3 linked regions of the Homo sapiens genome follow. Each later gene encodes a partner of the first gene's protein in a complex. Each region holds a gene or a part of one and is shown on either strand. Other genes may lie near its edges.

Region 1 (7,129 bases):
ACATGGTGAAACCCCATCTCTACAAAAAATTTTAAAAAGTAGCTGGGTGTGGTGGCACATGCCTGCAGTCCCAGCTACTTAGGAGGCAAAGTAGGAGGATTGCTTGAGCCCAGGAGGTCGAGGCTGCAGTGAGCCCTGATTGTGCCACTGCACTCCAGCCTGGGTGAGAGAGCAAGACCCTGTCTCAAAAACAAAAAAACCACACAGAAGAGTTTAGAATCCCAGTTGCTATCTCTGGGAATCATCATGATTGCTAAGACCGGTATCTATCCAACAACAACAAAAATAATTAGTGCACTCCAGCCTGGGCAATAGAGGGAGACTCTGTCTCAAAAAAAAAAAAAAAAAAAAAAAAAAGATCAAAGACCAGTATCTAAATTGCTCTGTCGCCCAGGGTGGAGTGCAGTGGCACGATCTCGGCTCACTGCAACCTCCGCCTCCCGGGTTCAAGTGATTCTCCTGCCTCAGCCTCCCCAGTAGCTTGGACTACAGGCGCGTGCCACCACACCCAGCTAATTTTTGTATTTTTAGTAGAGGTAGGGTTTCACTATGTTTGCCAGGATTGTCTCGATCTCTTGACCTCGTGATCTGCCCGCCTCAGCCTCCCAAAGTGCTGGGATTATAGGCGTGAGCCACCACGCCCAGCCTATCTTTTTTTTTTTTTTTAAGAAAAGGTAATACATTGAGCAGTTTTCCTCCCAACCTAGTCCCTGTCCAATCTGTTTCCTGTCTTAAATTTATTTTTTATTATAATTTTTTTTTTTTTTTTTTTTTGTGAGACAGACTTTTGCTCTTGTTAGCCAGGCTGGAGTGCAGTGGTGCTATCTTGACTCACGGCAACCTCCACCTCCCAGGTTCAAGCGATTCTCCTGCCTCAGCCTCTGGAGTAGCTTGGATTACAAGCGCCTGCCACCACGCCCAACTAATTTAGTGTATTTTTAGTAGAGACGGGGTTTCTTTTGTTGTTGTTGTTGTTTTTGAGACGGAGTCTCACTCTATTGCCCAGGCTGGAGTGCAACGGCACGATCTCGGCTCACTGCAACATCTGCCTCCCGGGTTCAAGCGATTCTACTGCCTCAGCCTCCTGAGTAGCTGGGATTACAGGCACACACCACCACACCTGGCTAATTTTTGTATTTTTAGTAGAGATGGGGTTTCACCATATTGGCCAGGCTGATCTCGAACTCCTGACCTCGTGATCTGCCCGCCTTGACCTCCCAAAGTGATAGGATTACAGCCATGAGCCGCCCTGCCCAACTAATACCTGATATTAATTTTATTGTATCTCACCCAGCATGGTGGCTCACACCTGTAACTCCTTGGCAGATCGCTTGAGCCTAAGAGTTCAAGACCAGCTTGGGCAACATGGTGAAACCCCGTCTCTACTAAAAATATAAAAATGAGCTGGGCATGGTGGCGTGCACCCGTAATCCCAGCTAACTCAGGAGGCTGAGGCAGGAAGAATGGCTTGAACCCGGGAGGCAGAGGCTGCAGTGAGCTGAGATCATGCCACTGCATTCCAGCCTGAAACAGAGCAAGACTGTCTCAAAAGAAGTTTAAGTCCAGCCTCAAACTCCTGGACTCAAGTGATCCTCCTGCCTCAGCCTCCTGAGTAGTGCACCGGCCCCATCTCAAGTGTTCAGTATTCACATGTGGCTTGTTACTCCCGTATTAAAGAGCAAAAATAGAGAACGTTTCTTTTTCTTTTTTTTCTTTTTTTTTTTTTTTTTGAGATGGGAGTTTCGCTCTTGTCGCCCAGGCTGGAGTGCAATGGCACGATCTTGGCTCACCGCAACCTCTGCCTCCCAGGTTCAAGCGATTCTCCTGCCTCAGCCTCCCAAGTAGCTGGGATTACAGACATGCACCACCATGCCTAGCAAATTTTGTTTTTGTTTTTGTTTTTTTCTTTTGAGACAGACTTTTGCTTTTATTGCCAAGGCTGGAGTGCAATGGTGCAATCTCGACTCACTGCAACCTCCGCCTCCCGGGTTCAAGCAATTCTCCTGCCTCAGCTAATTTTGTAGTTTTAGTAGAAACGGTTTCTCCATGTTAGCTAGGCTGGTCTCAAACTCCCAACCTCAGGTGATCCGCCCGCCTCGACCTCCTAAAGTGCTGGAATTACAGGCGTGAGCCACTGTGCCTGGCCCTAATTTTGTATTTTTAGTAGAGATGGGGTTTCTCCCTGTTGGTCAGGCTGGTCTCAAACTCCCAACCTAAGGTGATCCACCAGCCTCAGCCTCCCAAACTGCTGGGATTATAGGCATGAGCCACCGCGCCCGGGGAAATATAGGGAACATTTCTATCATGGCCACGTTCTCTTGGACAGCAATGCCCTAGCACATAGTAAGCGCTTGCTGGGAATGGAGTTGTTTTGGGCATAAATCTGTGGCCCGCCCCAAGCTAAGCTACTTTCCCTCTCCTCTCTCAGCGGAGCCTTAAACAACGCAGTGAGACAGACATCTATCATCCCATTTTACAGGGGAGGATACTGAGGCACACAGAGGGGAGTCACCAGCCAGAGGATGCATAGCCTGGACACAGAGGAAGTTGGCTAGAGGCCGGTCCCTTCCTTGGGCCCCTCTCATTCCCTCCCCAGAATGGAGGCAACGCCAGAATCCAGCACCGGCCCCATTTACCCAACTCTGTACAAAGCCCTTGTCCCCATGAAATTGTATATAAATCATCCTTTTCTACCAGCTCTGGCCAGGTCTGTCTATGGATGGGTGTGAATGGGGTAGTTTTGATTTCAGAATCTTGGTTTTTGAATTGCAATGCAATGTTTCATTCAATACGTGTTTTCTGAGGTCCCCTGGAGCCCCGGGCCGGCGCTGGGCAATGTCAGAGCCTGGATTTGAGTCAGAACCAGCCCAGGTGCCCCAGGTCTCCTTGGCTATGGACGAGAAGACAAGGGATTCAGCGAGCCTGGGTGCAGGATGCCATAGGCTACTATGGAGATAAAACAGAGGCAGTGTGAGGGGCAACTCACCCAGGCAGGGAGAGCAGAGAGGCTTTCCAGAGCCAAATGGCATTGCGATGGTGACAAGCCAGATTTGGAGGGGGTGGGGAGGGCATCCTGGGCAAGGGACCCAGCTGAAGCAAAGGCCGACAGTCCAGAAAGTGAGAAGTTCCTCTGAGGAACGCTCAGTGGATTGGTGCAGCCAGGCAACTAGAAGCCATTCCTTGATCCACTCTTAGAGCCCCTGGGGAAGACCACCTCCATCTGTTTTACAGATGGATAAACTGAGGCCCAGATAAGGCCAAGGGTTTCTCCAGGTCACAGTGAAGTCGACCAGACACAGGAATCCAAATCTCTAAGCCTAGAATGGGCAAGGCTCCGGGGCTCACGCCGGTAATCCCAGCACTTTGGGAGGCCGAAACGGGAGGATCGCTTGAGCCCAGGAGTTCGAGATCAGCCTGGCCAACATGTCAGACTCCCCCCGTTCCCGGGCCACAACAAAATATATATATATATATATATTAGCCAGGCATGGTGGCGCGCCCCTGTAGTCCAAGTTACTCGAGAGGCTGAGGCAGGAGGATCCCTTGAGCCCAGGAAGTGGAGGCTGCGGTGAGCCATGATCGCCCCACAGCACTCTGGTGTGGACAACACAGCGAGACCCTGTCTCACAAAATAAAGTAAGCCCGGACTGAGTGCGGAAAGGCGGGCCTGGCGGGTCTGGTCTCCCCATGCGGGCCACCAGAGGCCCTGCAGCCTTCAGTCGCTTGAAGGGGTAATGGCGCTTCCACTCACAAACATGGCGGACAGAGCGTGTGAACGAGATGAACAGCCCCTCAAAAATATGGCCGCCGAGGCTGGACGGCCGTGCCCCAGCAGCACCGCCTCCGCGCCCCACGTGATCTCTCGCCGGGCACAGCGCTGACCGCGGAGGTCCAACCGGAAGAATGTCCGGATTGGACATTCGGAAGAGGGCCCGCCTTCCCTGGGGAATCTCTGCGCACGCGCAGAACGCTTCGACCAATGAAAACACAGGAAGCCGTCCGCGCAACCGCGTTGCGTCACTTCTGCCGCCCCTGTTTCAAGGGATAAGAAACCCTGCGACAAAACCTCCTCCTTTTCCAAGCGGCTGCCGAAGATGGCGGAGGTGCAGGTATGGGCTCCGCGCGGGCCGGGGCGGCAAGGGGCCGGGTGGGATCCAGGCCGGAATGGGGTCGCACCCTCTCTGTCTTGCATGTTTTGCGGAGCTTAACATCCATAATGAAGCAAAATGGAAGTCTTTTGGGATAAGGGGAATCTGTAGGAAATGCCGCGGCTCTCTTTAGGCCTAGGGTTGGCTACAATGTGGCATTTCCTTCTCGAGGCGAGGGTGATAGAGCTTCCAGCACAGGACAGGTATTTTGCAACTAGATTTTGCTTACCTTGAACTCGGGTAGTGGGTGGGGGCCCTGGGGTAGAGTCTTGGCCGAATTGGACCCTTGTGTGTCCTCAGCGATGAGGAACACGCGGAAGTGTGGCCGGGCGGTCTCGGGGCAATGAGAAACTGAGTTTTGGCCAAAATGGAAGGTATTTTTATCCCGCTCAGTGCGCGGGCTACTTTGATTTCACGTGGAGGTGTTAATCGGGGTCCCCTGCAGCTCCGGTTCTTTTAATTCTCAATGCCTTTCTGCGGGGGGTCGAGAGCTGTTGGCTGCGGGGCACTCTGGAATGAACTCGTTTTCCGTCGTTTTGGGGATTGGCGATTGTCCTGAGGCGTGTTACTGGAAGTCGAGAGCTGTGATGAATGGTTCCACAAGGATGGGACATCTTTTGGGCCTGACACCTGGGGGCCCTTTCCCTGGCTCCTGGTGTAGCTACTTAAGTATAAAGGAGGGATTGGCCCTGGAAAGGTTTCTTTGTGAGTAGTCTGTTGTTGGGGCGGGTGACATTTCAGAGCCAGGCCGATCTAGGCAAGTTGTGTTCACCAAGCATGTGTCTTTGTGCCTAGCACAGTTCGCAATGTTTTGCGTAGTTCAGTTAACCATATTCCTGAGGCAGTTACTGGTATCCTTGTTTTACAGAGGAGGAAATTAAATTGGAATTGGTGATTTTGGGCCAAGGTCACGACTTCAGGAAGTCTGTCTGGATTTTAGAGTCTTTGTACCAACGCTTACAAAGCATGTGTAACAACCAGTGTGTGCTTCATGCTTTTGCATTAAAACAATGAGGATTTCTACTTTTAGTGTTTTTTCTGAGACGGAGTCTCGCTGTGACACCCAGGCTGGAGTGCAATGGTGCGATCTTGGCTCATTGCAACCTCTGCTTCCCAAGTTCAAGTGATTCTCCTGCCTCAGCTTCCCGAGTACCTGGGACTGCAGGTGCCTGCCACGACGCTTGGCTAATTTTTGTGTTTTTAGTAGAGACAGGGTTTCACCATATTGGCCAGGATGGTCTCGAACTCCTGACCTCAACTGATCTGCCCACCTAGGCCTCTCAAAGTGCTGGGATTACAGGCGTGAGCCCCTGTGCCCGGCCAGGATTTCTACTCCGGAGGAAGCTGAGGTTCGGTGCCTGAGCAGTTTACCGGGGAAAGCAGAGTGCTCTATAGCAGAGCTAGCATGGGCTTTTGACTACTCTGCCTAATCTCATCCCACCTGAAATTCGGTTTTCTTCCAAATTAAATTTGTGGTAGAAACATCCTATACATTAGAAGAGAATTAGATTGTGTTAACATCCTACAATTGATTGGCCACAGTGGCTCAAGCCTGTAATCCGAGCATTTTGGAAGGCCGAGGCACACGGTTCACTTGAAGCGAGGAGTACAAGAGCAGCCTAGGCAACATGGCAAAACCCTGACTCAACAAAAAAAAAAGTACAAAAATTAGCTGCGTGTGGTGGTGCGCGCCTGTAGTCCCAGCTACTCATGAGGCTGAGGTGGGAGGATAGCTTGATCCTGGGAGGTCACAGGATCACAGGACAGCCTGTGCAACAGCGAGACCCTGTCTCAAAACCAAATCCTACAGTTTATTAGTTACAAGGTCTTGTAACTGGGTAGTCAGTGGGCAGAGCCTTGCTGGTCTTCGTTCAAATCCAATTGCTTTGCAAAATACAATCTGAGCATAAAATACTCATAGAAGAACTCAGATATGAGGGGAGTTTGGGCCTCTTAAACTGCTCACTCACTGATCCTGAGGCAGCCTTGCTTTCTCAGTCCCTGTTCCTCATCTGTAGAACGGGGCTCCGTGCATAGTTCCCAGCTCTGATGGCTGGGTGCAAGGCACGCTGTTGGCACGGTAGGACAAAAGAAGGGAATGCTTGCTTGTGAGGACAATCAAAGGCTGTCCTTGTCTCTGAGTCCTTTTGCCCTTGTCTCCCACAGGTCCTGGTGCTTGATGGTCGAGGCCATCTCCTGGGCCGCCTGGCGGCCATCGTGGCTAAACAGGTACTGCTGGGTAAGTCGCTGCTCGTGGCCCCTCTGTCATGGGCCCCCGCTGGAGGTCAGTGATGAGCAACATTCACCATCTTTCGTTTGAGTCTCACGGCCATGAGATCAACCCCATGCACCGCTCTGAGACCTGCCAGCCACTCTTCCCCAGGGTTGGGGACTCCAGGCTCAAGAAGTAATTATGTATTAGGCTAGTTTTTCATTTAAACAGGAACTTAGCTCTGGCAAGTACTGCGCTGTGTCTGGAGGGTGACTGCATAGGCAGTGGTGGGACCCTCAGGCGGCTCGGCCCTGCTAAGCCTTTCCCTCCCTCTAGGCCGGAAGGTGGTGGTCGTACGCTGTGAAGGCATCAACATTTCTGGCAATTTCTACAGAAACAAGTGTAAGTTAGGACCTGGGAGGAGCACTGGAGAGGGTCTCCCTGTGGGGTGTTGAGGCTCTGAAAGCAATTGCAGCCGTGTTGGGAGAGGCTACTTGGGGTTTCTGAGAAGGCCCTTGGAAGTGGGGTTTTGGGGGTGCTGGTAGACTGGGCAGGCCTCACACTCTCCCCTCTCCCTAGTGAAGTACCTGGCTTTCCTCCGCAAGCGGATGAACACCAACCCTTCCCGAGGCCCCTACCACTTCCGGGCCCCCAGCCGCATCTTCTGGCGGACCGTGCGAGGTGAGCAGAGCGTGGGGACTGCAGGTGGTGACGGGCAGGCGGCCGGTGATGAGAACTTCTCCCACTCACATTCGAGTTTCCCGACCAT
Region 2 (8,025 bases), on another chromosome or scaffold:
CCTCCCTCCCCACCTTGAAAGGAAATTATGGGAAAGCCAGTCCCCAGAACCCCCAACCCCAGGGTTGCACGCAGCCCCGGCAGGGAGGAGCCAGTCTTGGATGAGAAAGGTGGGAGCCTCAGTCCCATTCCCCAGCTCTCATACCATGAGTCCTTCCACGATACCAAAGTTGTCATGGATGACCTTGGCCAGGGGTGCTAAGCAGTTGGTGGTGCAGGAGGCATTGCTGCAAAGAAAGAGGGAGCGGGGCGCAAGTCAGGGGAGCGTGTCCATAGGGTGCCAGGCTGGCCGCTTCTCCACGGGCCCTGCCTTCCTCACCTGATGATCTTGAGGCTGTTGTCATACTTCTCATGGTTCACACCCATGACGAACATGGGGGCATCAGCAGAGGGGGCAGAGATGATGACCCTTTTGGCTCCCCCCTGCAAATGAGCCTACAGCAGAGAAGCAGACAGTTATGAACCCGGGTCCTGCCTTTGCAGGGCTGAGTCAGCTTCCCCTCCCGCGGGCCCTCCTGCACTCACCCCAGCCTTCTCCATGGTGGTGAAGACGCCAGTGGACTCCACGACGTACTCAGCGCCAGCATCGCCCCACTTGATTTTGGAGGGATCTCGCCTATGGGGGTGGGGGGGAGATGGGGACAGGACCATATTGAGGGACACAAGGTTACCATATACCCAAGGGAGCCACACCATCCTAGTTGCCTCCCCAAAGCACATTTCTTCCATTCTGTCTTCCACTCACTCCTGGAAGATGGTGATGGGATTTCCATTGATGACAAGCTTCCCGTTCTCAGCCTTGACGGTGCCATGGAATTTGCCATGGGTGGAATCATATTGGAACATGTAAACCTGGGGGAATACGTGAGGGTATGAAGGGGCTGCCCATCAGCCAGGTGGCTCCTCCCACACCAGCTTTGGGGCTCACCATGTAGCACTCACCATGTAGTTGAGGTCAATGAAGGGGTCATTGATGGCAACAATATCCACTTTACCAGAGTTAAAAGCAGCCCTGGTGACCAGGCGCCCAATACGACCAAATCTAAGAGACAAGAGGCAAGAAGGCATGAGGAGGGGAGGCTCCTCCAGAATATGTGAGCAGCCCTAGGCCACCTCCCCATTAAGAGGGCGAATGCAGCATCTCCTTACCCCCAGGAGGGCCCAAGAGGTTGAATTTTATCTCCCTTGAGCTTCCCTGCCAGGCTGGCCTGGCTTAAGGCATGGCTGCAACTGAAGGCTCCAGGGCTGCCCAACACCCCCAGTCATACGAAGCCCTTCCAGGAGAAGCGGCCATGTGGGGCACTGCCACCCACAGTCTGGGCACAAGCTTTGTACATGGTATTCACCACCCCACTATGCCACCCCAGGAATGCTTGCTGCTGCCTAGCTCAGCTGCACCCTTTAGGGAGAAAACGCTTGTACACTCAGCATCATCAAACTCAAAGGGCAGGAGTAAAGGTCAGAAATTAACTGGACAGGGCAAGCCCACCCCTTCTCTAAGTCCCTCCTACAAAAGGGACAGAGACTGGGGCGGGTGGGAAGAGGGGAAGCTGTATTTTAACCCCCTAGTCCCAGGGCTTTGATTTGCCAAGTTGCCTGTCCTTCCTAGCTCTTTTCCAGAAATCAGGAGTGGGAGCACAGGTAAGTGCATGTGTGTGGGGAGAAGGGATGGGAGAGAGCCCCAGCCCAGGCCCCCAGCTACAGAAAGGTCAGCAGCTATATTTAACCTCAGACCAGGGTGCGGTGGGAGATCTGGTTTCCGGAAGACGGAATGGGGAGAAGGGCAGGTTCCCCGAGGCGCCCAGACACCCAATCCTCCCGGTGACATTTACAGCCTGGCCTTTGGGGTCGGGTCAACGCTAGGCTGGCAGGGGAAGGGCGGGGCCGTGAGGTGAGCCGGCGCTGCAGGAAGGGGCCACCACCAGAGGGGCCATTTTGCGGTGGAAATGTCCTTTTCCAACTACCCATGACTCAGCTTCTCCCGGCTTGGCACCATGCCACAGCCACCACACCTCTGCGGGGAGGGGACACAAGAGGACCTCCATAAACCCACTTCTTTGATTTACCAGAGAATAATCTAGGAAAAGCATCACCCGGAGGAGAAATCGGGCCAGCTAGCCTCGCTCCACCTGACTTCCCCGCCACACGCGACTCCACCCATCGAGGCAGGAGCGCAGGGTTAGTCACCGGCAGGCTTTCCTAACGGCTGCCCATTCATTTCCTTCCCGGTTGCAACATGGCGGCCGCTCTACCGCAGGCGCAGCATCCGGACAGGGATGCACCCGCTGCGCACTAGCATCCCGGGGCCTGCGGTGCCGGAGGCCGTGGGGGAGGGGCTCCTCTGCGACACGTGACCCCGCAGAGCGCGAAAGGAAAGAAAGCGTCCCCCACCTAGGGGTCCGGGTCGGGATCTCGGGCGGGAGTAGGGACCTCCTGTTTCTGGGGACTAGGGGAAGGAGGCTCCGGGCAGATGGCGCCGCAAGGGCGGAGCTGCACAGGGCGCCACAGCCTGGGTGCGGGGCTCCGCCAGGTCCGAGCGCTGACCTTGAGCTCTCCTTGCGGGGAACAGCTACCCTGCCCCCATACGACTGCAAAGACCCGGAGCCCGCAAGGCTCGTAGACGCGGTTCGGGGGCGGTCGCAGCCCAGGGCCCCCCAGCCACCCGCGAACTCACCCGTTGACTCCGACCTTCACCTTCCCCATGGTGTCTGAGCGATGTGGCTCGGCTGCGCGGAGGGAGAGAACAGTGAGCGCCTAGTGGCCCCGGCCGACACACACGCCTCCCCTCCCCTCCCCCACCAGGCCTCCATGCCCAGCCCGCGCCGCATCACGTCCTCCGCCCGCCCCTGCAATGCGGAGGCCGCCCGGGCCCACCCCGCAGCGGCGCGAACACATCCGGCCTGCGCCCGCCCCTGCCGCCTTCAGGCCGTCCCTAGCCTCCCGGGTTTCTCTCCGCCCGTCTTCACCTGGCGACGCAAAAGAAGATGCGGCTGACTGTCGAACAGGAGGAGCAGAGAGCGAAGCGGGAGGCTGCGGGCTCAATTTATAGAAACCGGGGGCGCGGCGGCAGGCGGTGACTCGGACCCCGCCTCCCGCCAGGCTCAGCCAGTCCCAGCCCAAGGTCTTGAGGCCTGAGCTACGTGCGCCCGTAAAACCGCTAGTAGCCGGGCCCTACTTTCTCCCCGCTTTTTTTTTTCCGCAGCCGCCTGGTTCAACTGGGCACGCACCGAGCGTGTGGGCCCCGACGTAGGGGGGAAGGGACTGAGATTGGCCCGATGGGAGGTGATCGGTGCTGGTTCCCAGGACTGGACTGTGGGCAGCAGGACACTAGGGAGTCAAGGACGGGGACCCTTACACGCTTGGATGAAACAGGAGGACTTTGGGAACGACTGAGATGGGGAATTGGAGCCGGAGCCCAGCACCGCTCGCGGCTGCACGCGGCCTGCCCCCTCCCCTTTCTTTCTTTCAAAGGCTGAGAGGCGGGAAAGTTGGGGAACTTCTCCTCGAGGCTCTGCGGTAGTGACACCGGACTGCTCAGGCAAAGGCCTAGGAGGGGCCCATGGGCCTCGGGCGGGGGCCCGTGGTTCCTTCCCAGCCCCCACTTCCCCCTCCCCATCTCCTGGCTCCTGGCATCTCTGGGACCGAGGCCTGGGCTGGGCACTGGGCACTGGGCACTGGGGGCCTGGAGAGGAAGGAGGCTCGGGAGGCGGCTTGAGGGGGAGGGGGAGGTTTCTGCACGGAAGGTCACGATGTCCTGCAGCCCTGTAGCCTGGACCTGATAATTAGGGCAGACAATCCCGGCCCTGTGTGCACCAGCGGCTCTCTCCGGGCTGGGGCCCCAGGCGGAGGACAGGATGGCTGGTGGGGGCCCAGAGGCCTCCCACAAAGGCACTCCTGGAAACCTGTGGGCTGTGCTGCCTAGGGAGAGAGACAGTGTGCCTTTCATTCCATCCAGCCTGGGGCGAAGAGCGGGACGTGAGGGCGGAAGTCCCTCCCCGCCCTGGGACGTGCAGGCGAGCCAGGAGCCAGGGACTCCCTTTCACTGGCTGCGCCGGGGGATATTGAGGGCAGGGTGAGTCAAGAAGAGGGAAAAAGTGGGAAAAGAGGTCTTGGGCACACGGTGGGAACAGGTCCCCTGCCCCCTCCCACAGGGGATCCATTCTTCTGGTAGGAGGGCAGAGGGCCAGGTTTGTGAGTGTGGGATGGGAGGGTGCTGAACACTTGTAAGGAAGGGGGTGGGGTGGGGTGGCCTTGGCCCATCAGCAGGTGCATGGGAGGGGGATCCCGGGCCTCTTTGCTGGCCCAGCATAACCTGACACCAGCCCCCTGCCCTTCTAGCTAAAAGCCGGTTGCTAAGTTTAGCCTGCCTGGTGATAATCTTTGCTTAAAAAGCACCCACAGGACTCCAGTCCCTGACCCTGCCTTTCTGGGATTGCCTTTCCTGCTGGGACCCAGAGCCAGGCTGTGTCCTCGTCTGGCTGCCACTGGCATGGTTGGTGCGGGCTTTTCACAATGACCACCCAGAGCAGAGTAGCAAGAGCAAGGCAAGAAGGTCCCTAATGGTGAAAGGGGTGGGGTGGGGGAGTGGAGGAAGCCCCACCTCTGACTCAGCTATTCCTGCAACCAGGACCGTTAACCCTTTCTCATTGAGAGCATTAAGAGCACCTCCATGCTCCTGCACCACCCAAGCGTGATCTTCCCCTCTGCCTCATGCTTGTCATTTTTCATTACTGTCTTCTCCCCGCAAAGAGGGAGCTCAGTGCCCAGGGAGCACTACTGACGTAGTGTGCTGTTGTCATGACAGCAGAGGCACCAGTGTGGTCACGACAGCCAGCTCACAGCCTCCGGTTCGAAGGTGACTCAGCAGAGAAGACTTGAGGAGCTGGAGAGGGGTGCGCAGGCTTCAGGGGGCAGCCCGCCTGCAGCATAGCTCACGCCCTCTGCAGACCCGGGAACAATGAGGAATGCTGGGAGACAGGTCTTGTCTCCTGCAGAGCTGGAGGGGATCATGATCTGAACTTCCACGAGCCTGGGCCGGTCTGCTGCCAACCTTTGGAGATGGGATTAGGGAACACGAGTGGGGGTGGGGTGAGGCACACGGCAGAAAGCAACCCTTGGTCTAGAGCAGGTTTTCTCAACTGTGACGCTATTGACATTGTGGGCCGTGTGATTCTTTGTTGAGGGGCCATCCTGTGCACTGCAGGATGTTGAGCCACATCCCTGGCCTCTTCCCACAAATGCTGGTAGCATTCTTCCCCTATAGGCTATGACAACAAAACAGGCCCCAGGTGTTGTCAGATGTCCTCTGGCAGACAAAATTGCCCCCGGTTCAGAAGCACTGATCTGGAGCCTAGGCACTGCATAATTCTCCCCAGAGAGGCTGTCTGGTCACTGTGCAGGGTCCAGAGGTTGAGAGGGGAAAGGTGGCAGTGACGGGGCAGGAAGCTCATCTGCCATCCCGGGACAGGCCCTAGGACTCTGGGCTCACTCATCTCTCTCTGCACTGATAACCCTCTCTCTGCTGCATGAAACTGGGCTAATGTGAAAGATGAAACAAAGACAAGCTTAGGAAAAAATGTCTAAAAGTATATAAAAACATTTATTCATTAGAAAACAAGGAGATTGGCAAACATATATTCCAAAGTTGAAGCAGCTCAACGCAGTTCAGTTAGGCTAATTTAAGAGAAAGCCTTGCATTTTAAAGAGCGTGTAGGCATTTTTTTTTTAATTTGAGATGGAGGTTCGCTATTGTTGCCCAAGCTGGAGTGCAATGGTGTGATTTCGGCTCACTACAACCTCCGCCTCTGGGTTCAGGCGATTCTCCTGCCTCAGCCTCTTGAGTAGCTGGGATTACAGGCGCACGCCAATACGCCCGGCTAATTTTTTATTTTTAGTAGAGATGGGGTTTCTCCATGTTGGTCAGGCTGGTCTCGAACTCCCTACCTCAGGTTATCCACCCGCCTTGGTATCGCAAAGTGCTGGGATTACAGGCGTGAGCCACAGTGCCCGGCCTTTTTTTTTTTTAAAAAAAAGAGACAGACAAATATTTTACAAGGGAAACAGAATTCGAATTCCAGGTCACCCTACAGGATACCCTGCACAGGGAGGACAGGAACAGACTTCCTAGGATCTGTGCCTGCGAGCCGATGCTCTGAGAATGGGAGTTGTTTTCTTGGGTGTCTCGTCTTCTGTCATCTCTGCTGAAAGATCTATGCAAAGAATTAAAGGAATAAGAAAAAGCTGAGTCACAAAGATGGTGAAAAAATAGATATCAGAGAACAAGTGAGACAATCCCACACCGCACAGAAGAAATAAAATCCAAGCTGTACAGGAGAGGCCCTTCTGCGGCAGTGGGGCAGAGCATCTACACTCAGGCCCCCGCAGCAGGTCCTATGGAAACCAGCCCTCTGCACCCTAGCTGTGTGCCTTCTCGGCCGGGAACAGGCGGGAGCATCATACCTTCCTCACTGGACTCATCACTTGAGAAGACAACTTTGGGTTTCTTTTTGGAAGCTCGCTGCTGGGTGTTTGGATGCCGACGGGTAGTACGGCGGGGCTCTGGTGTGACAAAGTCATTGTCTGAGGCTGTAGAAGCCAGAGGCTGGTACCTAGAACCTAGAAAAGGCAGGAAAACGTGATTTAAAAAAGAAGAAGAAACAAATCACTGCAGGAGGGGAGGGCCCAGTCTGGTCTCGCCCGCACAGGCTGCCTTACGTACCAGTGGATGGTTTCTTGGCTGATGGCGCTCTCTGGCTACCTGCTTGGCCAATCTCAAGCTCCTTGATTCCATCCAAACCTCTGGTATGACAGGCCCGAAGCTTCTGCTCAAATTCATCTATTATAGCCTGGAGGGAGAAAAGGAGATTCAGAGCAGGCCTGAAAACAGTTACTTCTGATTAAAAAGAAACAAGGCCATGGAAGACATGGAGGCCTTAAACGCACATTACTAAGAAGCCAAGGTGAGAAGGCTCCATACCGGATCATTCCAATGATACATTCTGGAAAAGACAAAGTGATGGCAACAGTAAAAAGATCAGGGGTTGTGGGGAGAGAGGGATAAATAGGTGGAGTGCAGGGGATTTGTAAGGCAGTGAAACTCTTCTGTATGATACTGCAATGGTGGGTACATGTCATTACGTGCAGTGAACTCCAAGGTAAACCATGACTTTAGGAGATGATGTGTAAGTGTAGGTTCAGCTGTAACAAATGTGCCACCCTGGTGCAGGATGTTGAAGGTGGGGAAGGCTGTGATGTGTAGGGGCAAGGGGTAGAAGGGAACTCCCTGTACTTTCTGCTCAATTTTGCTTTGAACCTAAAACTGCTCTGAAAAATAAAAACTATTAAAAACAAACAAACAAGAATTGGATGAGATGCTGCTTTGGTTGTGTTTTTGGAGTAATAAAAAAAGAACTGGAGACAAAGATCTGGTCTTAGGTCACTCTGGCAATTTGGTTGCAACCCAGCTGGGGATAAGGAGGACGGGAAGGTGACTGCAAGAGCCGTATGCTGCCCAGGGCCGGCAGATGTCTTAGCCAGCCCAGAACCCAACAGGCATTGAAGTGTCCTGTGCTGCTCACCTTGCCCTCAGGCTTGGCCCCACGTCGCAGCTTGCCTACAACTGACAAAAAAGCACTGAAGATGGACTCATCTGACAGTTTGTCTCCAAAACAGTCAAAATTGTCAAGCATCTTACGGAGGCCTCGCTCTGTGAGGGGCAGCTGTGACACACAGTAGGCCAGGTCTCGCTGCTGCCGCTCAGTTCTGCAGATAGGAAGGGCTTTGTGAGGAACTGGGAGATCCAGCTAGTAAAGGCTCAACCTTCCCCATCAGCCTCCCCAGTCCCAGGGATGCCACAGTGGGGGCATTGAAGGGGTGAGGGATGGGCCTTTCTCCCCTGCAGGGCCCCGCTCAGCACAAAGAACCCTCAGGGAGGGCAGCATACCGGGATGTGCGGAACCGCTGACACAGCTTTTCCACCAGGCTCTCTGTCTGCTTGTCCTTGGTGATGTAGGAGAGGAGCTGTCTG
Region 3 (7,074 bases), on another chromosome or scaffold:
TCTGGTGGCTTGGCAAAAACAATTTCAATATTTTCTCCCTCCAAGTCTTTGCCATTCATTTCTTCCATAGCCTTAAAAAATTAGATAAGTCAATATAAAAATAGGACTTTCATACAATTATGATTCATTTAAAGTTGGAATATCATTTATCATTAATGTGGGAAGGACAAGAGAAAGCCCCATGCAGGCAGTCAAATAATTTTATTTAAAGATGCAGATATTCAATTATTTTTCATTTTTACTTAGAAAACTGCCAACATCACTAAAACCAAAAGGTTTTAGTTTGAATGGATTCCATGGACTTCCAAAGTCTCCTCCAATTTGTAAAACTATTTTGAGATTCTAAAATGACTAAATTTGTTAGTCTGATTTAGATGCCTGTAATTCCACCATATTTACCTTGACAGCACCATCTCGCTCATCAAAATGAATGAACGCATAATCTTTTAACTTCTTCACTCGTTCCAGTTTCCCAAACTGACTAAATGCCTTTTCTAAAATCTCTTCTGTTACAGTATTGGCAAGGTTGCGTACAAACAGCACTTTTACCTAGGGGGAAGAAAATACCCCCCTGTATTATTTCCAAAGAGTTCCATTTCTAAGATACCACCACCCCACCCTACAAAGTTAACTCAAATCACAATCCATTAGAAGAATGTCAGAATATAAAAAAAAAAAAAGTTTTCAACTCCTTGGGTAAATATCAAGCAGCAGAACTGCTGGATCATGTTGAAAGACCTGAAATAGATGCTTTGCCAAAAAAGATATACAGATGGCAAAGAATCTCATGAAGATGCTCAATATAATCTGTCATTCGGAAACCGCAAGTCAAAACTATTAGAATGGCCAAAATCCAACACACTATAAATGCAGGTAAGAATGCAGAGCAATAGAAACTCTCATTCATTGCTGGTGGGAATGCAAAAGGGTATAGCCCCTTTGAAAGACAGTTTGGCGATTTCTTACAAAACTAAACACACACTTCCATATGACCCAGCAATCCTGCTCCTTATTTACCCAGAGTTGAAAACTTACATGCACACAAAAACTTAGAGAGAGATGTTAATAGCAGCTTTATTTGTAACTGCCAAAAATTTGCCAGACGCAGTGGCTCACACCCGTAATCCCAGCAATTTGGGAGGCTGAGGCGGGCAGATCACCTGAGGTCAGGAGCTCGAGACCAGCCTGGCCAACACAGTAACACCCCGTCTCTACAAAAATACAAAGATTAGCCGGGTGCGATGGTACGCAACTATGGTTCCAGCTACTCGGGAGGCTGAAGCATGAGAAATGGTTGAACCCAAGAGGCAGAGGTTGCAGTAAGCCGAGATCGTGCCACTGCACTCCATCCTGGGTAACACAGCGAGACTCTGTCTCAAAAGAAAAACAAAAAAATTTCCAAAAATTGGAAGAAACCAAGATGTTCTTCAATGGGAGAATGGACAATTGTGGCACATACAGAAGGAATATTATAACTGATAGAAACTAGTTAAAAGCCACAAAATGACATAGAAGAACTTTAAATATGTATTACTAAGAGAAAGAAGCCAATGTGAAGGTTACATAATGTATGGTTCCAACTATGTAACATTCTGAGAAGGCAAAACTATGGAGACAGTGACTGCCAGTGGTTGAATGGGGAGGGATGACTAAGCACAGGACAGAGGATTTTTAGGGCAGTGAAACTATTCTGTATAATACTATGATGGAAACACGGTTATACATTTCTCCAAACCCACAGAACATACATCTAGAGTGAGACCTCATGTAAACTATGGACTTTAGGTAATCAATCTACGTCCATCAATTTTAACAAATGTACTATTCCAGTGCAGGATACTGGTAGTGAGGAAGGCTGTGCCTGTGTAGGGGGCAGAAGTCATATGGCAATTCTGTGCTTTCTGCTGTAAACCTAAAACTGCTCTAATGAAGTCTATGAAAAAGAAAATGCAGACTACAGGCTACATCAGTAATAATTACCAATTAGTAATTATTTTGCAATAAAAAAGATAATTTTTCCTAACAAAGTAAATACCATGCCCTCTAAGAGAGTTATTGAATGTTTAACACTTAACAAGAGTGGCCAAAACTAATTAGGACCTGCTTTTGAAATCTTAAAGGGGGAAGGACTGTTCAAAATATTAGTAAGACAAACTGTTCTCAATCCTGAAAGCTTCTCAAAGTAAAATTACAAAATTTAACCTCTTCACTAACATTATCACTTCCTCCTAAAATAACTTGAATACCATCTGAATGTGTTAATCTAAAGTGCTAACCCAATGAGAATTTATAGGCCAGAGGAAAAATGAATCCTAACTATTTTCTCTTCTCTAAGACCACTTATCCTTCAATAATATTCATAGCTCCCTGGCAGTTCATATTACCCTCAATTTAACTCAACTAGTGGTGTCTGACACCTAACCTGTAAGTAACAAAGAGGGAATTCTTAAAAGACAAAGGATAACTGGGGCATGGTGGCTCATGCCTGTAATCCCAGCATTTTGGGAAGCAGGATTGCTTAAGGCTAAGAATTGTAAGACCGGCCTGGGCAGCACAGGGAGATTAACTCTGCCTCTACAAAATTTTTTAAAAAAATTAGCCAGGTGTGGTAGTACACACCTGTAGTTCTAGCTACTTGGGAGGCTGAGGTGAGAAGATCTCTTGAGCTTGGGGCTACAGTCAGCTATGATCATGCCCCTGAACTCTAGCCCTGGGCCACAGATCTAGACCCTGTCACTTAAAAAAAAAAAAAAAAAAAGAGAACAAAGGATAGAACAAATAACTGCAAATTACTGCACCAGTGTGTAATAAAGTGTTGACTCAAGGGATGTTTATTCTTATACAATGTCTCCACTGACTGCTGAAGTCAGGATACCTAATAATGGCTAAATGTAACTGCAAGCACCTCTGCTGCGGCCAGTATAATTTACTGTTTTTAGTAGTAAGACTTTTAACCCCAAAACCATGTAAACTAATGGTGCCATTCTCAAAAACTCAAATTGCTCTTAAAAAACACACAAAATGGAAGTCAACTGTCTACAGCATGTAGGCGACTTCATTACAAGATTGTGATGGCTATACAATTATGGCTAAGTATCCACGCATCAATTTCTATTTTCACTTTGCAGGCACATGGTATTTCCAGTGCGCACTGCCTAGTCCCGTAGTAAAGAACATTTCTCCCAACTCTAAAAATATGGTTTAAAAAAAAATGTGTCCAGGGCCAGGTGCAATAGCCTCACGCCTCTAAATCCCAGCACTTTGGAAGGCCGAGGTAGGTGGATCCCGAGGTCAGGAGTTCGAGACCAGTCTGACCAACATGGTGAAACCCCAGCTCTACTAAAAAAAACACAAAAATTAGCCAGGTGTGGTGGTGGGAGCCTGTAATTCCAGCTACTTGGGAGGCAGGAGAATCACTTGAACCCGGGAGGCGGAGGTTGCAGTGAACCAAGATGGCACCATGGCACTCCAGCCTGGGAAACATGGGAAACAAGAGACTCTTGTCTCAAAAAATAAAAAAATGTATACTGTTCATTTTATGTTCCCCCCACCCCAACCCCGGCCCTTCTCCCATTAATCCCTCAAAAAATATTTTTAACTTGACTATCATTACCTTTGCCATAACCTCAGGATCAGGATCTTCTATAGGATCAGCCCATTCAACAGTTCCAACATTCCCCCAGACCTTGACTTTACCACTCATTAACCTACGCCTTGCCTGGGCAGCTGTTTTGTGATCTTCATATTCAAGAAAGCAAAAGCCTCTGTTTTTTTTCTTGTCATCCGGTTGGTGGTATAAAATGACGTCTGTAAGACCCTCTGCAAGTAAGCAACCATTCCAGGAAAATTAGATGAAATAACTAGCAAATACAAGTGGATCAAAGGATTTATCTAAGATACTACTTAAATATCAAAATGAAAAATCATCTCTTTCCTTCACTAGACATCTTTATAAAAGACTATCAAAAACTAGGTCCGGATTATTTTCCTAATCTGTTTCCAAGTTTTTCAACACAGAAATCTCCAGAAAAGAACATGTGCTCTTTTTAGAGGTAAGGACTACTTTTGTTTTCACTAATTAGATCAGAGAGGCAGATAAAAATTTTCATATAATTGTTCTAAGAAAATGGCAGTATAGATCAAATATGGCTATTTTTCTTATTATGCAAACACTAAAATTATTTTTAATGGCACTTTTCTGGCCTTAGATATCAATGGCTTTATTTCAAATAAAATAGAAGTTATAAGTACTGCATAAAAATTTCCAATGTCCTGAAAGTTGATAACAGGCTGATAATTTGTTAGACACTGTTGGCAGACCAAAATATTTTCTAAAAGCAACCTGTCACTTAAAAGTTGTTACAGTTCAAAAAATTTTTTTACCATGTTGACAATATATAAACTCTGTTTATGGGCCAGGCACGGTGGCTCATACCTGTAATCGCAACACTCTGGGAGGCCGAGGCAAGCAGATCACTTGAGGTCAGGAGTACAAGACCAGCCTGGCCAATATGGTGAAACCCCACCTCTACAAAAGACGCAAAAATTAGCCAGGTGTGGTGGTGCGCGCCTGTAATCCCAGCTACTCAGGAGGCTGAGGCAAGAGAATCCCTTGAATCTGGGAGGCAGAGGCTGCAGGGAGCCAAGATCACACCAGCACACTCCAGCCTGGGCAACAAAGCAAGACTGTCTCCAAAAAAAAAAAAAAAAAAAAACACTCTGCTACGGCAATACTTACTACTCCTGTAATTTCAAGAACATCAAATCATTATTCAAACAATTCTACTAAGAACATCAACTAACACCTAGAGAAAGAACACACAAAGAAATACGATCTTCCAAAACATAGGAAGAACAATGATTTTGCAGAATGAATTCAAACCCTAGCTGTATTCCCTACTAACTTGTACAACGTTTGGCAAGTTATTTCCCAAATCCCTGAATGCCTGTTCTTCTTATCTGAAAAATGGGGTTACCTACACTTCAAAAGTTGTAGTGAGGATTCGATGAGTCAATAAATGTATTTAGAACAATGCATGACGCACAGAAATATGCTATTAATCTTCATTATTAAAAGCTGCACCTCATTCCAAATAAATCCAACTTACCTGTTACTTTGCTAAATTCTTCAAGAATCTGTTCCTTGGTTTTACTCTTAGGAATAGAGCCCACAAAAAGCCTATTGTTGGCAACTGAGATGCAGACACCAATATGTTTTCCAGAACGAATTTCATGATTATTATACTGAAAGGGGAAAAAGTGCATCATGTTTTTAAATTACTTATACAACTAGAACAGTTAATTATAAAAGATACACAAGAGCAAATCATCCTTTAAAAAGTAGTTTACCTTAATTCCCATACAAGGGAATTATGAGGAACAGATTATATTAACAAGACCCATTGGACAAGTTCATGAACCAATTTAATGCAAATAAAAGGTTATTAAATCCTTTACTTGATTAATTAGAAATCAGATCTGCAGCAGCTTAAATTCAAAAACTGCCAGTTCCTCAAAAACTTAACTTTTACTTAAGTTCATCCCATCAACCAGTTATTCTCATACAAGGAAAACTGATCCCAAGATCAGCAAGATCTCTGCCGTTCTGTTAACCAGCACCTAAATCTATTTTTCCATCTTCCCTTCCTCTTATCAAAAGTTGTAATAAGAAATTTCAGGCTTCAAATATTTAAGCCTAAAAAAACAGCTTTTATTTCTAAATCCAACTGTACTTTTTCCCCATTTCATTTTCATTATGCATATAACAAATTATGAAGGAGAAAGAGAAGTAGATTTGTCATGGCAAAAATATACAGAAACAACTTTAAAACTACAGTAAAAAGTAAATTGAATTTTCGAGTAACCATATCCCAGATTATCAGAAAGCAGAGGCAAAAAGCAACATGTCAAAGTGACAAATCCACCAATTAGTATTATTTACAAACCCAAGTGCAAAAGTATCCAAGTAATCTAGAAAAGTGGATTATATGGGTTAGTTAAAACCACACCTCAAAATTTGTTACTAATAATGGCGGCAGCAGCGGCAATAATTATTGATTAATCCTCCCACACCTAACCTCAAAATCTATTCTACACGTGGAGCTACACAAACTAAAGAACCAACATCAATTTCCATACAACTTTATAGAAATACCTTACAGCAAAAGAAACCATTCTTCTATTATGCCCATCCTTGCTAGGTACACCGGGTATAACAGAAGAAAACATGTAAGTCAGAAAGTTGAGTCCTCCCTGTCCCTTCCCCATCTCCAGAAAATCAAAATTTAATAAAGTTCAAATACCATACCTCCAGTTCAGAAAAATTTATTGCTTTCTACCCCACTATTCTGTACAGGCTATTCAAGTGTGTGGCCCTCCTGATCCCAGGTTTACTTCTATTTCTCTACATTTATGCCAGAGACACAACATTAAAAAAAGTAAAAAGATGACTCCTGCTACTTTCTCCTCTCTCTCTCAAATACCTTTTTATATCAACTCTTAAACATACAGGGTTTTTTTTTTTTTGTCTTTTCTGAGACAGAGTCTTGCTCTGTCCCCCAGGCAGGAGTGCAGCAGTGGCACTATCTCGGCTCACTGCAACCTCCGCCTCCTGGGTTCAAGCAATTCTCCTCCCTCTACCTCCCGAGTAGCTGTGATTACAGGCGCCTGCCACCATGCCCGGCTATTTTTTGTATTTTTAGTAGAGACGGGGTTTCACCATGTTGGCCAGGCTGGTCTCAAACTCCTGATCTTGTGATCCACTCGCCTCGGCCTCCCAAAGTGCTGGGATTACAGGTGTGACCCACCATGCTGGGCCACATGCAATTTTTATACTCCTATGGCTCTGAAGAAATTGCCTTCCTTCCCTGAAACTTCTACCATACAAGCTCCTCTGGATACCTGTAAATTAAGTTCAACCACCCAATACTACAATACATAAATCCTAAAAGGGTCAACAAAATACTCCTCCATGTTAACACAGACCAACAGTTCTCAACAGGAGTGATTTTGCCCCCCAGAAGTCATTTGACATTCTTGATTGTCACAACTTGGAAAGAAGTGGGGACTTGCTGC

What was found.
Region 2: RPL13A (region 1) and GAPDH share a complex: the UniProt entries of both Homo sapiens proteins name them as parts of the GAIT complex.
Region 3: RPL13A (region 1) and SYNCRIP share a complex: the UniProt entries of both Homo sapiens proteins name them as parts of the GAIT complex.

What each region holds. Positions count from the first base shown.
Region 1 is NC_000019.10:49,483,536-49,490,664, forward strand, and holds the start of RPL13A (large ribosomal subunit protein uL13), read left to right. Parts: upstream 1-4,072; 5' UTR 4,073-4,094; coding exon 4,095-4,109; intron 4,110-6,314; coding exon 6,315-6,387; intron 6,388-6,430; exon of another isoform or gene 6,431-6,512; intron 6,513-6,696; coding exon 6,697-6,762; intron 6,763-6,939; coding exon 6,940-7,041; intron 7,042-7,081; exon of another isoform or gene 7,082-7,129. Other genes in the region: FLT3LG (fms-related tyrosine kinase 3 ligand), read left to right, coding at 2,480-2,667. UniProt on the Homo sapiens protein: Associated with ribosomes but is not required for canonical ribosome function and has extra-ribosomal functions.
Region 2 is NC_000012.12:6,529,510-6,537,534, reverse strand, and holds the start of GAPDH (glyceraldehyde-3-phosphate dehydrogenase), read right to left. Parts: upstream 3,019-8,025; 5' UTR 2,966-3,018; exon of another isoform or gene 2,726-2,965; 5' UTR 2,703-2,725; coding exon 2,674-2,702; intron 2,272-2,673; exon of another isoform or gene 2,066-2,271; intron 1,042-2,065; coding exon 942-1,041; intron 852-941; coding exon 745-851; intron 616-744; coding exon 525-615; intron 435-524; coding exon 319-434; intron 227-318; coding exon 145-226; intron 1-144. Other genes in the region: NCAPD2 (condensin complex subunit 1), read right to left, coding at 6,123-6,208, 6,459-6,614, 6,718-6,844, 7,577-7,760, 7,942-8,022. UniProt on the Homo sapiens protein: Has both glyceraldehyde-3-phosphate dehydrogenase and nitrosylase activities, thereby playing a role in glycolysis and nuclear functions, respectively.
Region 3 is NC_000006.12:85,618,869-85,625,942, forward strand, and holds part of SYNCRIP (heterogeneous nuclear ribonucleoprotein Q), read right to left. Parts: intron 5,245-7,074; coding exon 5,109-5,244; intron 3,820-5,108; coding exon 3,614-3,819; intron 550-3,613; coding exon 400-549; intron 72-399; coding exon 1-71. UniProt on the Homo sapiens protein: Heterogenous nuclear ribonucleoprotein (hnRNP) implicated in mRNA processing mechanisms. Component of the CRD-mediated complex that promotes MYC mRNA stability.